Regions from separate parts of the Homo sapiens genome. Here regions 2, 3, 4, 5, 6 and 7 are each reported to be linked to region 1. Evidence: microRNA targets listed by miRTarBase, many of them from high-throughput screens and not tested one by one. Region 1 holds a microRNA gene; each other region holds the end of a gene's coding sequence.

What was found. Region 1 holds the annotated microRNA hsa-miR-200b-3p (UAAUACUGCCUGGUAAUGAUGA, at 1,875-1,896, opposite strand). A microRNA usually pairs through its seed, bases 2 to 8, with sites in the 3' UTR of a target mRNA and lowers its output. Matches are read on the target gene's strand: a 7mer-m8 pairs with bases 2 to 8, a 7mer-A1 pairs with bases 2 to 7 and ends in A, and an 8mer does both.
Region 2: the mRNA of CCNE2 is a reported target of hsa-miR-200b-3p. Seed matches in the 3' UTR shown: 7mer-A1 at 1,251-1,257 and 7mer-m8 at 1,516-1,522.
Region 3: the mRNA of EP300 is a reported target of hsa-miR-200b-3p. Seed matches in the 3' UTR shown: 7mer-A1 at 2,107-2,113.
Region 4: the mRNA of SP1 is a reported target of hsa-miR-200b-3p. Seed matches in the 3' UTR shown: 7mer-m8 at 3,001-3,007.
Region 5: the mRNA of FN1 is a reported target of hsa-miR-200b-3p. Seed matches in the 3' UTR shown: 7mer-m8 at 2,325-2,331 and 7mer-m8 at 2,039-2,045.
Region 6: the mRNA of STX16 is a reported target of hsa-miR-200b-3p. Seed matches in the 3' UTR shown: 8mer at 2,449-2,456.
Region 7: miRTarBase lists RASSF2 as a target of hsa-miR-200b-3p. The part of its 3' UTR that is shown has no 7-base or 8-base seed match.

What each region holds. Positions count from the first base shown.
Region 1 is chr1:1,165,975-1,169,055 of GRCh38, reverse strand. MIR200B (microRNA 200b) reads right to left here and starts at 1,952; the gene lies at 1,858-1,952. It overlaps MIR200BHG (MIR200B, MIR200A and MIR429 host gene), which reads right to left. Exons shown (of 2, transcript XR_007065348.1): 2 at 1-3,081. MIR200A (microRNA 200a) reads right to left here and starts at 1,193; the gene lies at 1,104-1,193. MIR429 (microRNA 429) reads right to left here and starts at 51; the gene lies at 1-51.
Region 2 is chr8:94,878,794-94,881,874 of GRCh38, reverse strand. It overlaps CCNE2 (cyclin E2), which reads left to right. Exons shown (of 12, transcript NM_057749.3): 12 at 130-1,651. The coding sequence ends at 243. It overlaps INTS8 (integrator complex subunit 8), which reads right to left. Exons shown (of 27, transcript NM_017864.4): 27 at 129-1,757. The coding sequence ends at 1,641. Among named protein-coding and RNA genes, the nearest start is that of CCNE2, 15 kb to the left of the region's middle.
Region 3 is chr22:41,178,657-41,181,737 of GRCh38, reverse strand. EP300 (EP300 lysine acetyltransferase) reads right to left here. Exons shown (of 31, transcript NM_001429.4): 31 at 1,661-3,081. The coding sequence ends at 2,782. Among named protein-coding and RNA genes, the nearest start is that of EP300-AS1, 17 kb to the left of the region's middle.
Region 4 is chr12:53,410,730-53,413,810 of GRCh38, forward strand. SP1 (Sp1 transcription factor) reads left to right here. Exons shown (of 6, transcript NM_138473.3): 6 at 198-3,081. The coding sequence ends at 511. Among named protein-coding and RNA genes, the nearest start is that of AMHR2, 12 kb to the right of the region's middle.
Region 5 is chr2:215,358,980-215,362,060 of GRCh38, forward strand. FN1 (fibronectin 1) reads right to left here. Exons shown (of 46, transcript NM_212482.4): 45 at 2,990-3,081; 46 at 1,886-2,647. The coding sequence ends at 2,576. It also overlaps a transcript of ATIC not described here. Among named protein-coding and RNA genes, the nearest start is that of ATIC, 48 kb to the left of the region's middle.
Region 6 is chr20:58,675,995-58,679,075 of GRCh38, reverse strand. It overlaps STX16 (syntaxin 16), which reads right to left. Exons shown (of 9, transcript NM_001001433.3): 9 at 1-2,889. The coding sequence ends at 2,785. The region is part of intron 8 of STX16-NPEPL1 (STX16-NPEPL1 readthrough (NMD candidate)); the gene reads right to left. Among named protein-coding and RNA genes, the nearest start is that of NPEPL1, 15 kb to the left of the region's middle. RefSeq lists enhancers at 2,199-2,723, 2,724-3,081.
Region 7 is chr20:4,781,659-4,784,739 of GRCh38, forward strand. RASSF2 (Ras association domain family member 2) reads right to left here. Exons shown (of 12, transcript NM_014737.3): 12 at 1-2,684. The coding sequence ends at 2,615. Among named protein-coding and RNA genes, the nearest start is that of RASSF2, 40 kb to the right of the region's middle.

The sequences.
Region 1 (3,081 bases):
AGACAGAGGGCCAGGTCTAACCATGTCTGGTAAGACGCCCATCGGCCGGCGGTGGTGTGGGTGGCCTCCGGGTCCTGGGCTGGTGTCTGCGGGGCCTGTGAAGGGAAGGCCCCGGGGGCGGCTCCTGCCACCTCCTGCAGCTGCCCTGATCCCTCCTGGGTCTGCAGAACGAGCCCCCGAGGCACTTCCCTGACAGCCCCCATCCCAGCACCTGGTCCCAGCCCAGCCTGGCTGTGTGGGGGTACCCGGGAGCCACCTGGTCACCCAGGCCCTGCTCTTGGCAAAGGTTCCCTGCAGCCCCTCGCTGGCTTCCTGAAGCTCGGTCGGGTTAATGAGTAACAGTGAAGGGCAGCCTCTCCCCGGTGGCTGCCCCCTCCCCAGGCTGGGGCCTTGTGTGGGGGTGCGGTCCCAGGCGCCCTGGTTGCAGATGGAAAAGATGAAACAATGGGTCATCCTGGCCTGGTGGGTTTTGGACAAAGTTCCTGTTCTTGTTGACTGGGGGAAGGAATGAGACCCCTTGTCCCTCAGAGGGCAAGCGCAGAGCGTCCCCGCTCCCCTGCATGGTGGGGCTCGGGAATCTGAACCCACCTTGTCCTTCCTGCGCCCCCAGCAGACCCTCCACGGAGCCCGGACCACGTGAGAGAGGCCACTGTTGCTCTTCCCTCTCCAGCCCTGGCATCCCAGCCCTATGGCCTTTCCTGGAGCCAGGTCACCCTAAAACCCAGCCTGGGAGGTTGGGTGGGGGAGGCACAGCGGCTCCGGGAGGGGGAGCAGGATGCCCTCCAGGCCACCTGTGGAGGCACCAAGGGGTCCTCAAGGTGTCAGACCCAGCCTGGGCGTGAGTGACCCCGGGGGCACCCCCGGCAGAGGCCGGCCCCTCCCCTGGGGGCTGGACTTCGGAGCTGACACAGGCCCTCTGCCGCCCGCTCAGCCCTCCGCCCTCACCCGTCTGCTGGCCCCGCTCGGCCCTCCGCCCTCACCCGTCTGCTGGCCCCGCTCGGCCCTCCGCCCTCACCCGTCTGCTGGCCCCGCTCGGCCCTCCGCCCCAGCCCATCCCTGGAGTAGGAGCTCCGGATGTGCCTCGGTGGTGTCCCCGGCGAGCGGCGGGTCACCTTTGAACATCGTTACCAGACAGTGTTAGAGTCAAGCTGGGAAATCCAGCACTGTCCGGTAAGATGCTCACAGGGGCCCGGGAGGGACGTGGGGTCCCGCCAGGCAGGCAGGGGCTGCTGTGGAAGCCCAGGGAAGAACCGGAGCGGTGAGCAGCCAGGGGTGGTGCCGGGACCGGACAGGGCTGGCGGAGAGGGGCTTGGGGGCCCTGAGACTGCACACAGGCCCACCCTCCCTGCTTCCTCCAGGGCAAGGGGACCCTGGGGCTGCTGACCCGGGACCAAGGCGGGGGCACTGGTCTGCTCGGTGGCCGGCCCACCCTGTCCGGCAGGAGGGAAGATGGCTGTGGCCAAGCTGGGTGGGGCGGCTTCCTCTGGGTTCCACGTGGCTCCCGGTTGGGCCTTGCCCTCCTGAGCCCTCTGTTGGGTCCTGCTCGGCCCGCACCTGCTGGGTGTGACAGCAGCTCCCGCCCAGGCGCTGTGGGCAGGGCCCGGACACCTGAGCGTCCTAATCCCCAGATCACTGTGGGGCGCCCTGGGTGCAGCTGCAGGAGGCCTTGCATTCCGGGGTCTCTGAGATGCTGGTGGGGGGCGCCCCAGCCCCCTTCCGAAGGTCACGTCCCCCCGTCACTCTCCCCAGAGCCATCTGGCCCGGACGGGGTGGGGTCCGGTGAGCGGGCTGTGTGGGAGGGGAGTGTGGGGCTCGGCGGGAGGCCCTGGGGGCCGGGACGGGGTCGGCCGGTCGCTGCGTGCAGGGCTCCGCCGTCATCATTACCAGGCAGTATTAGAGACCTGACTCCATCCAATGCTGCCCAGTAAGATGGCCACGGCTGCCCGAGCTGGGTCCGGGGGCCGCCCGGCTGAGGGTTGCATGGGACTCGCTGGGAAGCTCAGTAGCTGGGGGGCCTCGTCCTCCTGGGGCACTGAGGACAGCATCGCCGGAGGGCAGGGGCCCGGGTGAGCCCCACCCGCCAGCCCTGCCGAGTCCAGCAGCCACCAGCTTTGGGTCCTGGGGTGGGCACCTGGGGGGCCGAAGTGTCCTGGCCAGACGGCCGAGGACTAGGTCGGAGTGGGGCTGACACGGGCCCTCTGCCCGCCCCGCTCGGCCCTCTGCCCCCACCCCTCTGCGGGGGACCTTCCCTCTGGGTGGTCCCATAGGAAGGCCTGGACAGCAGCCCCAGCCCCCCGGGCCCCACGTGCTGCCTTGTCTGAGGCAGGGGACAAGGGCCTCTGTCTCCAGGATGGTGTTCCAGGAGCTGCTTCCCTGCCCAGCCCCTTCTCTTCTCAAAGGCCCGGTGTCTGCGAGGCTCTCGAGACAGAACGGTCCCCGCCACCTGGAGACCCCTCTCCCATGCTGCCCCGCTCACTGCACAGCGTCTGAGGGCAGGGGGTGCAGGCGGGGGTGGGGGTGGGGGTGTGGGTGGGGGTGCGGGCGGGGCAGGCTCCTGACCCTGCCCAGCCGTCCCTGCGGTTTGTGTGTCTGCTGGTCTGGGGTCTGACCCAGGCACAGAGGCAGACCGGCCACAAACACAGACACAGGCAGTCAAGCCTCAGACGCCGCGAGGGCTGAGCCGCCTCTGCAGGGGGGCAGGAGGAAGTGGGCAGCCCTGTGGCCCCTCCTTGCTCAGGGCCCTGCCTGGAGCCCAGAGACCCTAGGCTTCTACTCCAGGCACACTCAGGACCCGAGGGAGGTTCAGCCCTCAGGCCAGACCAAGGCTCCCCGCCCGCTGGACACGCCGTCCTTCCTGTCCTCCTTCCCACCCTTTCTCTGCAACCACCTGGTGCCAACTGGGCCCAGAGAGCTGGCCAGAGCCACTCTTCAAGTTTTCTGGCACCTTCCACCCACAGAGGCTGTAGGTGGGGCGCAGGCCCTGTGCCGATTCCCCTGTCTGCCCGCCGACCACAACAAAGGTCGTGTCCGCCCGCCCCCGCCTGCTGCCGGGTCCACCCGGTTCCAGTCTCCTCCTCCAAA
Region 2 (3,081 bases), not on the chromosome of region 1:
TGACCCTTCACACTTGCAAAGACATAAAAAGACTATTAAAATTAGGCCTAAATAATCTCAAATAAGTACCCAGAAGTCTGGTTTGACTTTGATTTATGAAATCAGTGCATGATTTCTTCCCATGTATAGGAGGAAGTAAATTACATAAACACCTTCAGAAAAGGGGGACAGTTGTCACCAGTGTGCAATGGAGGCATTATGACACCACCGAAGAGCACTGAAAAACCACCAGGAAAACACTAAAGAAGATAACTAAGCAAACAAGTTGGAATTCACCAAGATTGGGTAGAACTGGTATCACTGAACTACTAAAGTTTTACAGAAAGTAGTGCTGTGATTGATTGCCCTAGCCAATTCACAAGTTACACTGCCATTCTGATTTTAAAACTTACAATTGGCACTAAAGAATACATTTAATTATTTCCTATGTTAGCTGTTAAAGAAACAGCAGGACTTGTTTACAAAGATGTCTTCATTCCCAAGGTTACTGGATAGAAGCCAACCACAGTCTATACCATAGCAATGTTTTTCCTTTAATCCAGTGTTACTGTGTTTATCTTGATAAACTAGGAATTTTGTCACTGGAGTTTTGGACTGGATAAGTGCTACCTTAAAGGGTATACTAAGTGATACAGTACTTTGAATCTAGTTGTTAGATTCTCAAAATTCCTACACTCTTGACTAGTGCAATTTGGTTCTTGAAAATTAAATTTAAACTTGTTTACAAAGGTTTAGTTTTGTAATAAGGTGACTAATTTATCTATAGCTGCTATAGCAAGCTATTATAAAACTTGAATTTCTACAAATGGTGAAATTTAATGTTTTTTAAACTAGTTTATTTGCCTTGCCATAACACATTTTTTAACTAATAAGGCTTAGATGAACATGGTGTTCAACCTGTGCTCTAAACAGTGGGAGTACCAAAGAAATTATAAACAAGATAAATGCTGTGGCTCCTTCCTAACTGGGGCTTTCTTGACATGTAGGTTGCTTGGTAATAACCTTTTTGTATATCACAATTTGGGTGAAAAACTTAAGTACCCTTTCAAACTATTTATATGAGGAAGTCACTTTACTACTCTAAGATATCCCTAAGGAATTTTTTTTTTTAATTTAGTGTGACTAAGGCTTTATTTATGTTTGTGAAACTGTTAAGGTCCTTTCTAAATTCCTCCATTGTGAGATAAGGACAGTGTCAAAGTGATAAAGCTTAACACTTGACCTAAACTTCTATTTTCTTAAGGAAGAAGAGTATTAAATATATACTGACTCCTAGAAATCTATTTATTAAAAAAAGACATGAAAACTTGCTGTACATAGGCTAGCTATTTCTAAATATTTTAAATTAGCTTTTCTAAAAAAAAAATCCAGCCTCATAAAGTAGATTAGAAAACTAGATTGCTAGTTTATTTTGTTATCAGATATGTGAATCTCTTCTCCCTTTGAAGAAACTATACATTTATTGTTACGGTATGAAGTCTTCTGTATAGTTTGTTTTTAAACTAATATTTGTTTCAGTATTTTGTCTGAAAAGAAAACACCACTAATTGTGTACATATGTATTATATAAACTTAACCTTTTAATACTGTTTATTTTTAGCCCATTGTTTAAAAAATAAAAGTTAAAAAAATTTAACTGCTTAAAAGTAAAGTTTTGCCATTGCTTGGAGAAACTTTTTTTTCCTTCTCTGCGCTGCCAGCTGTAACACTTCTTCTGGATTGCTTGCATTCAACTCTGTCTGGCCGATGGCTTTGATCTTCCAAAACAGAAAAGTGATGTTATTAGAGGTGTGTCAAAAATTAAGTTTTGTTGGTACAAGTAATATAAAGCTACCTACGTGCTAACAACGATACAGTTTAATGATTAACTGAACCTCTTAACTGTAAAACCCAGGAGTCTTGGAAAAAAATTAACATAAAGATTAACCAGGGCCACTCTCAAGGAAAGATGGACTGCTGAGCCATAGTTTATGGAATTACTTAAGTGGCATTTTAATATATTAAGTAAATTCATGTAAATTTATTTGAAAGTATAAGTAAGCTCTACATGGCGATTTTTAGAGTTAAACTAGGGCTCCACTTGTTAATGTGCAAAAATAACTGGTGGCTCAGCACTATGGTAGCATATAGTTGCTCAACTTTTCATGATTAGAAAGAAGTGCCTCAACCAACTAAATATACACACTAGTTTTTTGCTATGGACTGTTTAGGGCCTTAAAATCTATAGATGATTTAAAAAAAAAAAAAAGGTTTTTTTTTGTTTGTTTTTTGTTTTTTTTGAGATGGAGCTTCATTCTTGTCGCCCAGGTTGGAGTGCAATGGCGTGATCTCAGCTCACTACAGCCTTTGCCTCCCAGGTTCAAGTGATTCTCCTGCCTCAGCCTCCCAAGTAGCTGGGATTACAGACGCCCGCCATCTCGTCCGTCTAATTTTTGTATTTTTTAGTAGAGACGGGGTTTCACCACGTTGGCCAGGCTGCTCTCAAACTCCTGACCTCAGGTGATCCGCCACCTCAGCCTCCCAAAGTGGTGGGATTACAGGCGTGAGCCACTGCACCCGGCCTAGAATTTCTTTAAACAATAAGACTTCTGATATGTAGCTTGAAGAGAGAAATGACTATTCAGATATGATCGTCAGGTATGGGAAGTTGGGGAATAGGAGAAATTGCTGGATGATGCCATTTCAACATGAAGGAATGCATGTGGCAAAAGTTGGTAGTAGAGTATAACCAGAGTTGTTTCAAACAGGTATCCCAAAGATAACTGGCTATAAAAACCCGAAGTGTGAGACAGAAGTTGGAATAGGAGCCAGATATTTGAGAGCAGTAATACACCCCATGTGGACAGTAATCAAAACCGAGAGTGGATTAAATTACCTAGGGAGAATGCAGGGTTACAGAAAAGTAACCCAAGGACTAACTTCTTGAGAAAACCAAGTTTAAGGAGTAGGCAGAAGGAGACACCCAAAACAAAAAGGAAGAAATAGAGAAAGTAATCCAATAAAAATGATGTCAGGGAAGCCAAAGGAATAAAGACTTTCAAGAAGGAAGGAGATGTAATCAGGAAAAGGACTGAAAAGTAT
Region 3 (3,081 bases), not on the chromosome of region 1:
CACTCTTCTGGGCGCCGCCTCCTCTCCTCCTCTTCCTATCTCTCCTCCAACATCCAGCTTCCATGCTACCCTTTCCAGAAACATTTCCAATTCCCATCAGCTAGGTTTTCTTTCATGGATTCCCTCTTGCATTCCTTGCATAGATCACTTGGTGCTTTGTACTTTGTCATGCTGTCTTCTAGACCTTAAGCTGGTTAGGTTGAGGGCAGGGCTGCATGCTGTTCATGTGTGCTCTGCCTGGCCTGGCACAGATGTAGCTGCTCCATGGATATCTGCGGGGTCACTGAGCTGAAGCAGGTGGATGCTGGATGCTTGATACTAGATACATTTTCTGGGGCTGGCTCTGATTAATGCTGAGTGAGTTCACCTCACATTAAGATGCTGGTAAGGTGGCTCATGCCTGTAATCCCAGCAATTTGGGAGGCCAAGGTGGAGGATCACTTGAGTCCAGGAGTTCGAGACCAGACTGGGTAACATAGCAAGACCCTGTCTCTATAAAAATTTTAAAAAGTCAGCCAGGCATGATGGTACACACCTTTGAGTCCCAGCTACTAGGGAGGCTGAGGTAAGAGGACTGCTTCAGCCCATGAGTTTGAGGCTACAGTGAACTACAATTGTGCCACTGCATTCCAGCCTGGGTGACGAGACTGTCTTAAAAAAAAAAGATGCTGGTTGTTTTCAGACTAAAATAGTAGCAACAGGTCAACGTATCTGAAATCCTTTAGCAGTCATATATGGTTAGTGTAAATCTCTGTGATAAAAGAAAGATCTGGAATTGATACCAAAGCAGCTCAGTACTTTTTAGTGTACTAACACATTTGTTTTAACAACTTGTTCACAGCTACTGCAATGTTCAGATGGAGGATCAATAATCTCTCCATTCTTTGAGCATCTAGCATATTACTGGACTCATGTGTAATCTCTCTCAGCCTTCTAGGTTTTATTTCCACACATTTTCCTTCCCTTCAACCCGATTCCAACTGACTTCTTTGTATTCAGTTAGCAAACAGGAGTGTTCCCCTAGCTTCATCTTCTCTGTTTTTAAAAGACGGAGTCTTTGGAGTGCAGTGGTGAGATCCTGGCTAACTGCAACCTCCACCAGGATCTGATTCTCCTGCCTCAGCCTCCCAAGTAGCTGGGACGGCAGGTGCCCACCACCACGCCCTGCTGATTTTTAGTAGAGATGGGGGTTTCACCATATTGGCCAGGCTGGTCTTGAACTCCTGACCTCGTGATCTGCCTGCCTTGGCCTCCCAAAATGTTGGGATTATAGGCGTGAGCCACCATGCCTGGCAAGTCTTGTTTTTTCCAAGAAGTTACTTGGGACTTAGGCAGATATGATCCGTCTTCTTAGGTCCTCCTTCTCATCCCTGTAAGATGAAGGTGATTGGAAGACCATGAGGTCATCCTTAAGGGGTCCTGTATCAAGGTGTTAAGTAGGTTATCACTTCCACCTTGACTGTTAGCTGGTACCTGCAGTACTTTTTCCCAGAACTTTGGATAAATTCACCAAGATCTACTTGTGAATACATTATACGTAGTAGATTAAAGAGGCTATAAGCTAATGCTTTCACTTTTTCCTCTGAATCCTAAGCATTAGGCACTTAAAACGGGTGTACTCCAAGACAAAGATGTGTTATCAAGTGAAACAAAGTCAGGGTGTCTGTCTCACACAGTTTATTTAACAATAGGTAATAAGAAATCAAATTTAACAGTCTATACAGTGATCCAAAGTTCATATTTATAAGTAATCAACTTTAATTGCATGATTTACAACAGTTGAGGGTTTTTGCTATTTTCAAGTTTTATAGAAAGTGTGTGTGTGTGTGTGTGTGTGTGTGTGTGTGTGTGTGTGTGAGTGGGGGGTAGGGTAAGGAGGAAGAAAGCAAGCAAAGAAGAAACCCCCAGGGACATTTTGCATGTTAAAATCATCCCACCGGAATCGTTTCTTACCCTCTTTTTAATTTTTTTACTTTGTTAGATGTAAAAATAACGAAAAAAATTCTTTCAAGAAACAGAAACCACAATATATAATACATCAATTTGGCAGCTGCCCCTGTATATTTTTGAAAAAGTCATTTTTCTCTCTACATGTACAAATTATTTTAATACTTGAAGTTTTACGCTCAGACTTACAGAATAGAAAATTTTCTGGAGCACAAAAGTTGACTTGAGGGGAAGAAAGGCAGTTTTTTTTTTTTTTTAAACATTTTTTAAAAGAATGAACATCTTTGCACCCAGAGAAAAAAAACTGGTATTTTAATATATATTTATATATATTTATATATATATAGAATGTAATTTTAAAGTAACATTAACCCCTTTTGTCCTCTGGTTTAGAAATGTTTTAACTCTTCCATAAAGTGAGGAAAATAGGGAAAAATGTCAACCATCTGCACCAGTAAATAATAACTATTAATATTACATATGTTCATTAATTTAAAAAAAATAATAAAACCTATTGGAGGTGCAAGGCAGGAGCATATTGTTTGGCTTCACAGGCCTCAGCCTCCTCCCAGTGCACACTTGAACCACACACACAAAGGGGAAGAAAGGCTGGTGGTAACCAGCCATAACAAAAATATATTCTTTGTATTCTATCATCCCTCAGGTTCATCTTGCATGTTTGCTTTAAACCACAAACGGCTACTGCACAGTTCTTATGTGTTCCAAGGAAAATTGTCTTTTAGGCTACGAAAGATTCAAAAAAATTGTTTTCAGTACAAAAAGTCTTGTTAAGAGAAAATAATTTTTTTGCTCCCAAAATACTACAAGGTGTCTCTAGTGTATGTCTAGTGTACTCTGTGAGAGGTTTGAATTCAAGTCTGAGTTATCGGTGCTGAGTCCCAGGTCCGTGGCGCTTGCACCATGGAGGTTTGCCATGCCTGGATTGCTAGCAAGCTGAGAAAGCATTGAATTCTGGTCCGGGCTGGCAAAATGCCCTTGTTCCATGGGGTTGGCCTGGGCAGCTACCAGTCCAGGATGTGGGGAACTTGTCTGTGGGGAAACGTGGTGTGGAGAAGGCTGAGGCTGCATCCTTGGGGAAGGACTGGAGTGGGGGGGCTGGGACTGTGGCCGTGG
Region 4 (3,081 bases), not on the chromosome of region 1:
TGATCTGCCCGCCTTGGCCTCCCAAAGTGCTGGGATTACAAGCGTGAGCCACCACGCCCAGCCACTTGAAGATTTTTCTTGTTTTTGATCACCTTCTCATACTGGCCTTACTCAGCTTAGTAGAGTAAGCACTGAATTGGGTAAGGTAACCTCACTTCCTAACATGTCAGCTTCTTATCTTTTCTTCCTTTACCTAGGTGAGAAGAAATTTGCCTGCCCTGAGTGTCCTAAGCGCTTCATGAGGAGTGACCACCTGTCAAAACATATCAAGACCCACCAGAATAAGAAGGGAGGCCCAGGTGTAGCTCTGAGTGTGGGCACTTTGCCCCTGGACAGTGGGGCAGGTTCAGAAGGCAGTGGCACTGCCACTCCTTCAGCCCTTATTACCACCAATATGGTAGCCATGGAGGCCATCTGTCCAGAGGGCATTGCCCGTCTTGCCAACAGTGGCATCAACGTCATGCAGGTGGCAGATCTGCAGTCCATTAATATCAGTGGCAATGGCTTCTGAGATCAGGCACCCGGGGCCAGAGACATATGGGCCATACCCCTTAACCCCGGGATGCAAGGTAGCATGGGTCCAAGAGACATGGAAGAGAGAGCCATGAAGCATTAAAATGCATGGTGTTGAGAAGAATCAGGAGAGGGATACAAGAGAGGAGATGGGGTCCCGGCACCCATCTGTATCATCAGTGCCTCTTTGAAGGTGGGAAACATTAGTGAAAATTCTGTTGGTGCCACGCTTTGATGAGCATTTGTTTGACCCCAGTTTCTTCTTACACTTCTTACCCCAGCCTACCCTTCCTGCATTTCTCTTCTCAGCTCTTCCATGATGGATTCCCCCCCCTTTCCTAAAGCCATCATGCCTTGATAAATATATATGATCATTGAAATACTTTTTAACAAAAAACAGATTCTATATTATTATATATATATATATATATATAAAGATATATAGAGATGCATTCACAGGGGTTGGCTGGGAGGAGGAAGACCATTCTGTGACCAAAATACCTTGGTCATTTTTTTTATATTGCCTTATTTCCCTATGGCTGAGCCTTGTTGTGACACATCAAGCTTTTCTGTAGATGTTGTCTTGGCTTCCCACCAGCTTAAGCGTTCATATGCTCTGCTTTTAGTTCATATATACATACATAATGTTTTTCCTTTCTTAATTTTGTCTTTTTGTTTGGGATCAGCTTCTTGCACTCCTTCCCTAACTCAACTGTTGCCGTCTCATCTTCTCTCATCTGATCACTTCATGTTTTGTTTTTGTTACTGCCTGGATGAGGCACTTCTGTCAATTTTTTCAGGACCTTAGTTCCAGCAGCAGAATGGAAAAATCCTTGAAGCCCAGGCTGATGCTTGAAGTAACTGTGGAGGGAGTGTTCAAAATACTACTGACGCAGGCACCTTCTTGGCGCTGGAGAGTCAAAGGCATCTCCCTTCATTAGCTGCTCTGAGCATCAAGAATTAGAAGTCTTTCAGTGGAATTGTACAAGAGTCCCTTTGAAGATAATAATCTTGGCTCAGTTTGTATAAACTGTCAAATTTTCAAATAATAGGTAGGGGGCTTTCACTAGGAAAATCATGTGCTCAGAAGAGGAAATGACTCGTAGTCAGGTTCAGGAGTTAGTGGAGTATTTGGACTTTGGTACTGCTGTCTTCCAAGGTAGCTCTAAGTTTTGATGTGTGGGCTTCTGAGTTTATATTCTGAAAGGAAATACACTTCTTTTGAACATCCCCACTAGGTTCTTTTCCATTGTCAATAAGGAGCATCAGCCAGTGAATCTGTTTCAGGTTTCCATTCTGCAGAACTCCTCCAAAGCATGTGCTAGTGGCAAGACAGTGGTTCTTATGATGTTTTCCCTTAACTTTTCCTTGTATGTTCTTGGGTGGTTCCTAAGGGAAAGGGAAGCACATGATCATGGGAATGATAGCCCAGAACAAAAAGAAATCTTGTCTTACCACAGTGTTTTATAGGAGAGATTGGGAGAAATCATCCTGTTTTCTCTGTGACCTGATTTCAGAAGAGACTGATCCAAAAATTATAACGGCAGGGAACCTAGTGCATTTGGCACTGAGATTTAAATGCAACCAGAATTGTCCTCAAGGCCCAGCCATAAAAGCATTGTCTCTCTCGACCTTCTGGTATCTTGTTAGAGAGCTTTTCACTGTGAGGAAGTGTGGAAAAATAGCTCTGTGTGTGTGTGTGTGTGTGTGTGTGTGTGTGTGTGTAATCTGTTAGGTTGGGGATAGGTTTTCTGCTAGCCAATATTAAAAGAGACCTGCAATAAAAAAATTACCCTGATCTGATAGAAAGCAAGTGTTTTTGTATGTGTGGGTGAATGTGTGTTCATGCCCGTATATGTCTACACACAGATGACAAATTATATTTGAAATCGTTGGAAAATAAATTCAGATCAAAATGCCTTTCAGGCCCATTACCTAGAAATCTATCTTAAAACCTGGGTATGTTCCTAAGGTCATTTCTTTGCTTATGCTAAATTAATTACAATTATGAATGGAGGATATTCTACTGTACTTTTTTAAAAAGAAACTATTTTTGTGTTTGAAAGTGAAACCAACATCCAGATCTATAGCAGAGTCCTTATTCTTCTCATAAATCTTTTTACTTTGGCTACAAATAGATGATGGTATGATTCTATTATATATTTTATATAAAATCCATCCAAATTAAGTTTTGGGTAAGTGTGTTGTTTAATCTGAACTATAGTAACTTAATACTCTAAACAATAGTTCACTCCATTTGGTCCTTTCTCCACAGATGTAATTATGTTTTCAACTCAGGAACTATGGCAAGGAACTTTCCCCAGATCAAATTCTATTAACGCTGAGATACAAGTCATCCATGCACAGCCACTATCATACCCTTTATTCTCACTGAAAGGCAGAACTCAGAACCTGTTATTTTATGTCTGTAATCATGTACTTTGGCATCTTTTGGAGGAAAGGGGCAGGATAACTCACTGGAATGTACAGTATTTTGCTAGTGCATTTCAAGGAATGGAATCTTCTCCAGTATGAAATTACCAGATATAAAATAATGTAATGATGCTG
Region 5 (3,081 bases), not on the chromosome of region 1:
TCAAACGATTCTCCTGTCTCAGTCTCCCGAGTTATGGGGACCACAGGCATGTGCCACCATGCCTGGCTAATTGTTTTATTTTTTGTAGAGACAGGGGTCTCGCTATGTTACCCAGACTGGCCTTGAACTCCCGAGCTCAAGCAACCCTCCCACCTCGGCGCCTCAAAGTACTGGGATTACAGGTGTGAACCACCCTTCCCGGCCCTTACACTGCATTTTAGGGTAAATATTTTTAGGTTTGTAGTTAGGCAAGTGGTTTGAAGCATCATCAGTCTCAACCTAAAGCTGCTCTTTCCTTATGTTTTTAGATATCAAGGCTTTAAGCAAGATTCAGATGAAGGGCCTGCTTTACCAGCTCACCTATGAATATGGAAGCATCAGCTTACTTTTTGCAGCACATGTGTCTCAGGGGGTTGTCCCTTCCCACAGTGTGTAGATTGGCATCGAGATGACGTTCTCTCTCCAGGGTGCAGTGATGACCGACATATGTGAGACAGTCGTTTAATATCACCTTTATTTTGTACTTTCTGTGATTTTTAAAAAACATACAGAGCAGCTCTCTTGGTGACTATTGGGCTGATAAAGCTTAAAGATCAGTAATAAATAGAAGTCCAGGGGCTGGGTCTGTATTTCGCTAAGGAAACCTCATCTGAGCTTCATGCCCTGTAAAATTAAGCTCTAAAACCTCCCCTAAATGAGATAGCTAAATGTCAAAGCATTTTATAAACTGTAAATCAATTCAAATGGGAGTTAGTATTTTTTTTTTTCAAATGAACATGAGGAAGTATCTTTCTGTATTTAGTTTTAATATTCTTTGCCAGGTGTTTATTGAAATACCTTCTTTCATTGTACATTAGTATATTTAAAAAGTGCTTTGCATGTCTTGTTTATTATGAACTACTAATTTTTTACTAATAATTATTTCCATTTCCACTATTTACTATTCTGAATGTCACATTTATTTATTTATGTTTTTTGGGATGGAGTCTTGCTCTGTCCCCCATGCTGGAGTTCAATGGCACAATCTCAGCTCACTGCAACCTCCGCCTTCTGGGTTCAAGCCATTCTCCTACCTCAGCCTTCTGAGTAGCCGGGACCAAAGACGCCCACTGCCATGCCTGGTAACATTTGTATTTTTAATAGAGACAAGGTTTCACCATGTTGGCCAGGCTGGTCTCAAACTCCTGACCTCAGGTGATCCACCTGCCTCAGCCTCCCAAAGTGCTGGGATTAGAGGTGTGAGCCACTGCGCCTGGCCTGAATGTCAAATTTAATCCCAAAGTTTGTTTCCTCAATGTTAAATTGAAAAAGAAATGACCTTTACAGATCAGGAGTAAACAAACTGTTTAGCTGGGAGTTTATCAAGCCATGCCAAAAGTGTCAGCTGACCCAAAGTAAGACATGTTAGATGGGGGTTATCATACCATGGGGTTTCCCTAAGATAAAACTCCTCCATATTATACTATTCAAATACTTTTAATATCTTAGTCATTTTTATTTCCCTTGCAGGCAATCTCTTTGAACAGAGGTTTATTCAATGAAGGAAAGGTGGAGGGAAGAAGGGAAGAATTACAATGGTTAGAAAAGAGCAACTAAAGATTATTTCTATTATACTTCTGAACGGTAAACTAGCAATTTTAATAAATATTGGGGTCCACTTAAATCTATTAAAGCAGAAAGTGTAAAGCTATCTCCATTAGTGAAGAGATGAAGTGACAAAAACCAATCAGTTTTTGTAGCAACTGATTTAGAAAATCTTGTACTGAAATCAACAATTAGACTTGCACATCATAGATTTTCAAATGTTTGCTGAATTGAAAAAGAATATTCACAGGAATTATTTCCCCCGAAGGTGTCTTATATCAAATAGATGAACTTCAAGTTGTGGAATGTAAATCTTTTATTAAAACAGTTGTCTTTCCACAGTAGTAAAGCTTTGGCACATACAGTATAAAAAATAATCACCCACCATAATTATACCAAATTCCTCTTATCAACTGCATACTAAGTGTTTTCAATACAATTTTTTCCGTATAAAAATACTGGGAAAAATTGATAAATAACAGGTAAGAGAAAGATATTTCTAGGCAATTACTAGGATCATTTGGAAAAAGTGAGTACTGTGGATATTTAAAATATCACAGTAACAAGATCATGCTTGTTCCTACAGTATTGCGGGCCAGACACTTAAGTGAAAGCAGAAGTGTTTGGGTGACTTTCCTACTTAAAATTTTGGTCATATCATTTCAAAACATTTGCATCTTGGTTGGCTGCATATGCTTTCCTATTGATCCCAAACCAAATCTTAGAATCACTTCATTTAAAATACTGAGCGGTATTGAATACTTCGAAGCAGAACAGGCAATGTGCAGCCCTCATTTATGAGAAAACCCTCAGGAAACTCCCAGGGTGATGCTTGGAGAAGCTGTGAGTTGAGCTGAAGCTGGAGAACTTCCTCCAGAGCAAAGGGCTTAAGAAAGAAAGAAGAACTCTAAGCTGGGTCTGCTAACATCACTCCAGTTTAGATGGATCTTGGCAGAGAGACATGCTTGTTCCTCTGGATTGGAAAGATGATTTACTCTCGGGAATCTTCTCTGTCAGCCTGTACATCTAAAGGCATGAAGCACTCAATTGGGCAATTAACATTCTGTTAAAAAGGAAGAAGGAAAAAAAAATTAGTGGCAAATACTGTAAAGTGTACAGAAAAAAAAATGCGGGGAGGTGGGGACTCATGACAGCTGCTTATAGATAGGATAATATTTCTTCCTAGTTTCAAGAACCTAGCAGCATACTGGGCAATAGGAGATGTTCAAGAGTTACATAAATTATAACTTAAACTATATTATGGAATACAGTGTTTCACTTAAGTCATTTATGAGTTGTTTTTTTTTTTAATTAATTAAAACACTTGGTTCATTCTGAAGAAAGATACCTGTAGAAAGAGACTGTCTAGTATGAGGGAACACACTTGTGCTGCTAATGCACTTACAGTGTTTGTTCTCTGATGGTATCTCTGAGAATACTGGTTGTAGGACTGGCCAGTAGTGCCTTCGGGACTGGGTTCACCCCCAGGTCTGCGGC
Region 6 (3,081 bases), not on the chromosome of region 1:
TTTCTCCTTCTACCTCCACTCAACCTGAGCTGCACCCGGACACTTTAAAGGAGGCATGTGTCCAGAGGCTGCATCCAGGGATGCCCAGAGGGAGCCTGCCCTGCTAGGCCTCCTCTCAGAGGGCGCATCCCAGGCAGAGGAGACTGGCCTGGGTGATCGTTACCTCCACGGCCCAGTAGAGTGTGGAAAAACATGAGGTGCCCACAGACAATGGCTGCCAGCGAGTAAAGGGAAAGAAACCCTGAGGTACCATGATTCTTTTCTCTTACTTCCTCAAATGCTACTGATCTCTCCCCAAGTACAGGCTCAACAGAAAAATACAGTGGTTTGAGGACCCCAAGAAGTCAGCACACAGGCCAGGGGCCAGCTCCAGGCTGGGTCTGTCTCTCCCACCTTGGGAAACCCAGCGCTAAAACAATTTTTTTTTTTTTTTTTTGAGACGGAGCCTCGCTCTGTCACCCAGGCTGGAGTGCAGTGGTGTGATCTCGGCTCACTGCAACCTCTGCCTCCCGGGTTCAAGCTATTCTCCTGCCTCAGCCTCTTGAGTAGCTGGGATTACAGGCGTGTCCCACCCGGCTAATTTTTGTATTTTTTGTAGAGACGGGGTTTCACCATGTTGGCTAGGCTGGTCTCGAACTCCTGACCTCGTGACCGCCTTGGCCTCTCAAAGTCTGGGATTACAGGCGTGAGCCACCGAGCCCAGCCCCTCCTTAAAACAGTTTCTAATCAGATCCGTTATTTTACCCAAATGGGTTGAGGGAACAAAAACCAACCCTCATCACCCTATTTGGTGAAAATAAATATAAAAAAAGATGATCCTCTCTTAAAGGGTCACTTTCCTTCAGGGGTTTGTAAGGCTCAGCACTTTAAAAAGCTTGAACAGAAGTCCGGTATTGCCACTGTGGACTGTTTTTGAGGCAAGTTCCCTAATGTGGACAGCCCCACACCTAAGAGCAGCAGATCTAACTTGGAACGTCTCAACCATGGGTTAAAATCAGATGGGATGAAAGAACACCTGCAGTGACTCTCAACAGCTACGGAAGTCTCACATTGCAGGGCTGACTGATGAGGTGCTGGCTTCTTATTCTCCGGCCCTCTTTCCTAAGCAATGTTTGTCAGGGAATACCAGGTCCGCTTCCTGAAATGCCAGGGCCCCTCTAGGACCTTATCATTCCACAGCCACATCAGTAATAGGAAAACCACCAATGGCTACCTGGAGGTGGCACCAACTTGGAAAGGGAAGGCTGGGCAGGGGTTTGGACACTAAGCCCATGAGCTGTTTGGACAACTTCAATCTCTGGAATTGAGTTTAAATTTCTGTAAACAACTTTAAAGTCAACTCTAGAGAGACATTTTGTGTGACTGGTCCAAATAAAACAGCACATTTAATGAGGTCATATTCTTCTTAAACTTTTTAAGAGAAGCAAAAACAATGGAAAAGCCATTAAAATTTACACAAAGACCATTAAAACTCTACTAGTGTCAATTAAAACAAAGCCAATAAAACATGAACAACTTCAAAGTTACCATCACTTTCCACACTGTTCTACAGTTATAGGAATATATTCAAGCACCATATTGATAATAGGTAGGTAAACGATGAAGTCCTACTTTGGCGGTCTGACCCACGCTCACACAAACGAGGAGCTTCCTAGTCAAGATGCCCCCAGTCCTTGGCAATGTGCCTGCTTCCTGGGCATTGCTCAGTGGCAATGGAAGAGCCAATAAATCAAATCGCTGGTGGAATATTTTACTTTGAAATGGAGTGATGTTTGGTTAATAATTTGAGATCCACTAATCCTAAATGGGGTGACCCATTTAAAATGGCCTCTGTGTAAATTCACAGTTCATTAAATAGAGTCTGGTTTGAACAGGTCATTATGTAGTTAGTATATAAGTAATGGATTGAGCAAGGATGGCTGGGGATACCCATGGGGACACACTGGCTGAGTCTGGTGGCTTTCATAACACTGTCAAGCTTTCTTTTAATGTGAGATTCATTTAAATCACCAACTTAAATTTAGGTGGTTTTGCTTAGTAACCTCTTTTGGTTTACAGTAGAAAATGCAGTGCAAAAATTTTAAATGAGGAATATTCCATTTACAATTAATTTAAAACTTATGAAGCTGTTTTAACTGGCCCATCTAAATGTGTTAATTAACATCAATGATGGTTTCTTATTTTTCACACTTTGTTACTCTGATCATTAACAGTGATGGAAAAGCTAAATTAAGTTAATGGGGAACGGATTATAAATTCTTAAAGGACTTCTTAGTTTGTTTTCAACTGGAAAATATATAGAGAAAGATGAAGGGGCATTTTTGCCTCTACTCATCAATTTTTGGTACCAAATTTCTTAAAAACCAGATGGTTTAAAGAAAATTTTTCCAAAAATTATGTTAACATTCTGCTCAGACATGGCTGCTAAAAAAATAGCATATACACATATAATACTGAACAGCTTCTGCAGTGCCTGTAAACTCTCAGCTCATTTTCTCTTTCTAAAAAAAATATATATTATAACTGATCCCAGAACTCAATCTCTATTGTGCAGCAGTATCAAAGGTCCTTAAATTCTCAACAATGAAGGAAAAACAAAAACCCATTCCCCGGACCGCTTGAGCAGGACTAGGGAAGGAGGAGTCCGTGGATGCAAAGGTTCGCTGCCCCGACGCCCTCAGATTCCTCGAGGCTGCACCTCTGCGGGCAGCTGGCGGGGCGCAGGCCAAGCCCCTCACACCCGGGAGATCCACACGCGCGGCACACACGAAAACCCAATGCCACTTATCGAGACTTCACGCCAACGAGGACAACAATGAGCACAATGATGATGACAAATAATATTAAAATCACAAGCATCTTCCGATTCTTCTTTTGATACTGTTCTGCCTACAAAAAGAGGAGGGAAAAAAGGCCGTCATTTTCCCCAAAATCCCAAATCAAGTCCCACTCGTTTCCAGAATGAGGCTTCCAGATCTCTCTGCACAGTGACTGAGGTCTCTGCTACAGGCTACATGATTGTAATCCCTCCAATCAATCCCACGGAATTCAATCACCAGGAGTGGAAGAGCCCCATGATCC
Region 7 (3,081 bases), not on the chromosome of region 1:
TTGATCACCTTGTAACATAAGCCCCTCCCGGGGTGGGGGTGGTGGGGAGACAGATGCAGCTAAACTGCTTTTCACAAGTTGGAAAAAAAACCCAACCCTATAAACTGGTCTTTTGTCCTTTACACAATTTCAGGTTCATTGCACGCAATTACATAAACTCCCACAAATCGGTCGAAGAGTTCAAAACTGCAAGACCATGTGATACCAGTGAGAAAATCTGCTCCACACTGTGGCAAAGTGTCTCTGTTTCAACTGCTGCTATTTCAAAGAACCCTTCCAAAATTTCTGATCAGGTTCTTAGGACGTGAGAAATGACCTCTCAAGAGGGCAGGACAAAATGGAAAAGTGTGGTCTGCATTACGTGGAAGTGTGTTGTGTGAGATGGGATCTCCTCTCACTTCCACCTCCTGACCTCCCATCTTTAAAAAGCTGAGTCTGCCTTAGTATCGCTCCCTTGGAAAGTGATCTGGCCAACTGGACATGTTGCAGTATTTCCCCATCTAACACTATCGTAGTGCTAGTGCAAATCAAAGAGAACTCTTATAAGCCAGAAATCGCTGTCCAGTAAGAGCTAGTGGTTAGTAGTTTGCTTTGTGGAAATTCTTCTCCCAAGTCCTCCAAGGAGAATTACTGGGGCCAACTAAGGCCCTGAACATTCAAAATAAAAATTACCAGAAGAGAAGTTCTCCAAATCATTTTCTCAATTGCAAAACTCAGGAGGTGTTTGCATTCACAGAACTGTTCTTTCCCAGCTGTAACAAAGGAAGCCTCTCCCGGTGGCTACTCTTTGTCTTCTTACCCCAGTTCTGTGCAGCTTGCAGAAGCCCTTCTGGGCTTCCACTCCATGCCCCACAGGGCTGGTGCTGCTGTCCCTATGGAGGAAGGAGACTTGCTATAAAACCCTTGGCGAAATGCCAGGGGCCGCATGCCATCTTTCTGCAGTCTACGTTAAGACCACAGCTGTGAGCCTTCTCAAGAAGCCATAGGTATGAATCGGGGGCAGGAGGGTGCCCAGGGCAGAAACGTCTCCACCAAAAAAGTCCACCTTCCTTTGGAGGCACCAACCAGGGGCTGTCCTTTCCTCAACTGCCCAGCTCTGCAAACATTCTGTGGAGAGAAGGTGGAGAAGAGATGGGCAGTGCCTCTACCCCAGCTAGGCTCAAAGACGCCTGCTATCAGGAGCTCCTGATCTTGCTTGGTCAATCTCCATAGCCAGGCACCCAGGTCCAAGCATCTGTCTCCCTCCTCAAACGATATCAGCTGCACTGATGCCCAGCTGCCTGTCAAGCTTCCTGATAGGAGTCCCAGGGCACAGACTGTTCTTGCCCTTTTCTCCCATTGGGGTTGGATTTAAAGATCACATAGGTGGCTGCTCAGAGGAGCTGAGGAGAAGCTCCATCCTCCCCATGCACCTTCACCAGGTGGCCTAAAGAGCTTCCCTGAACCCCACACTCAGTAGCAAGATGAGGCTTCATTCTTGGAATGCATCTCCACACACAAGGTGAGGGCAACTTGCAAGAACCCAGAGGTTGGAAAGAATGGTCTTGACTGCAAACATCGCCCCAGCTTCAAGTGCAGGAAGACCTTTGATGACATGAAGATGGGCTGCGTTCAAGGCACCTGTCATATCTGCAGGTAGCCTCGACATTTCCCTTCAACCTGAAACTTCCTGGCCACCAGGCCACCAGGCCCTGGCCACACTAGCTGGTCAGCACTGTGTACGCACCAGCGAGATCTTTGTTTCTTGAGACATTTCCTTCCACTCAAGGAAGCGCCATAGAGACAGGCTGTCAGCTGGGTACAGAGAAACACACAGGATCTTCTCTGTCTCCTAAAGGTAGCCATGGAGGCAGAGATGGAGGCAGAATCCACTCTTCACAGGTTTCCACATAGAACATCACATATGTCTTTGTCATTTAAAACAATCAACGTTTCCAGTGTAAAAATACGTGGGCTTATTGCATCTACCCCACGGATGGTTTATCTTTTTCTTTCCATCAGACTTGCCGCAAGGTTATGTGGCTGTTATTTTGTTAATTTCCAAGGCTCTTACATTCACTGATCCTTCTAGGCATACAGGGAGAATTTCTACCAACATATAAACAACCCAAATGGTGAACCTGGAGAACCCTCTTCCCTCTCTAAACACAGACAGACGTGTGGCTGCTCCCTGGCACTTGAGAGGAGAAATCTTTCCTTCAACCTAAATACCACTCAGATCAGTGGCTCCTCTGATTTTCCTGCTCACGAGCAGCACATGTGCCAAGCTCACGGCTCTTGTGCTGGTTGCCTGGAATTTAATTACATGTGAAAGTATCAGGTAGGCACATGGACACGTACCATGTGTGCACACACATGTACACACACACATTTTGGGTCCTCCTTATAACTAAAATCAAAAGTCCTTGTGAGCAGAAAAAAGGAGGGCAGGGGTCCAGGGATAGGGAGCTGTCTGCTGACTTCTACATCCAGCTCCAGGTAGCAAATGATGGCTTGGCCGGAGCTGGGGAGGTTTGTGTCTAAATGTTTCCATGGAAAGAAAGTGCCTAGCTTCCTGGGGGTCTTATGGGCAATGGCGGTTCCTGGGGTGCCCAGATCCCCTCGTTCTCATGGCTCAGATTGTTGCTGGGGTCTCGGCTATCTCCTCCAGCCTCTGTCGAATCATTAGCCGGAGCACGGTGTACCTGGAGACAAGAAACAGGCTCAGATGGAGAGCAGCCAGCAACACACCCCTGCCCAGGACCTTCCCGGCCACCTGGGTAACACCAAGGTCACACCAGGTAACAGTGCAGTCAAGTGCCCTGCTCCTTTGCTTCCATTACTGACCCCTCTTTAGCTACTTTGTTGCTTATGTTCATTCCTACAACACGATGAGAGGAAATAAAGAGGCCAAATCCAAATTAGATTATTTTACTATGGGTAGAACATCTAGCCAAAAAAAAAAAAAAAAAAAAAAAGGTAAAAAAAAACAACAGCAATAATAAGCATTCTACGAATTCAGTGCGTTTGCTTACTATGTCCAAGACACTATGCATAGTACTTCATATGCACAGCAGCTCATGAACCCTCACCTAGGCTAGA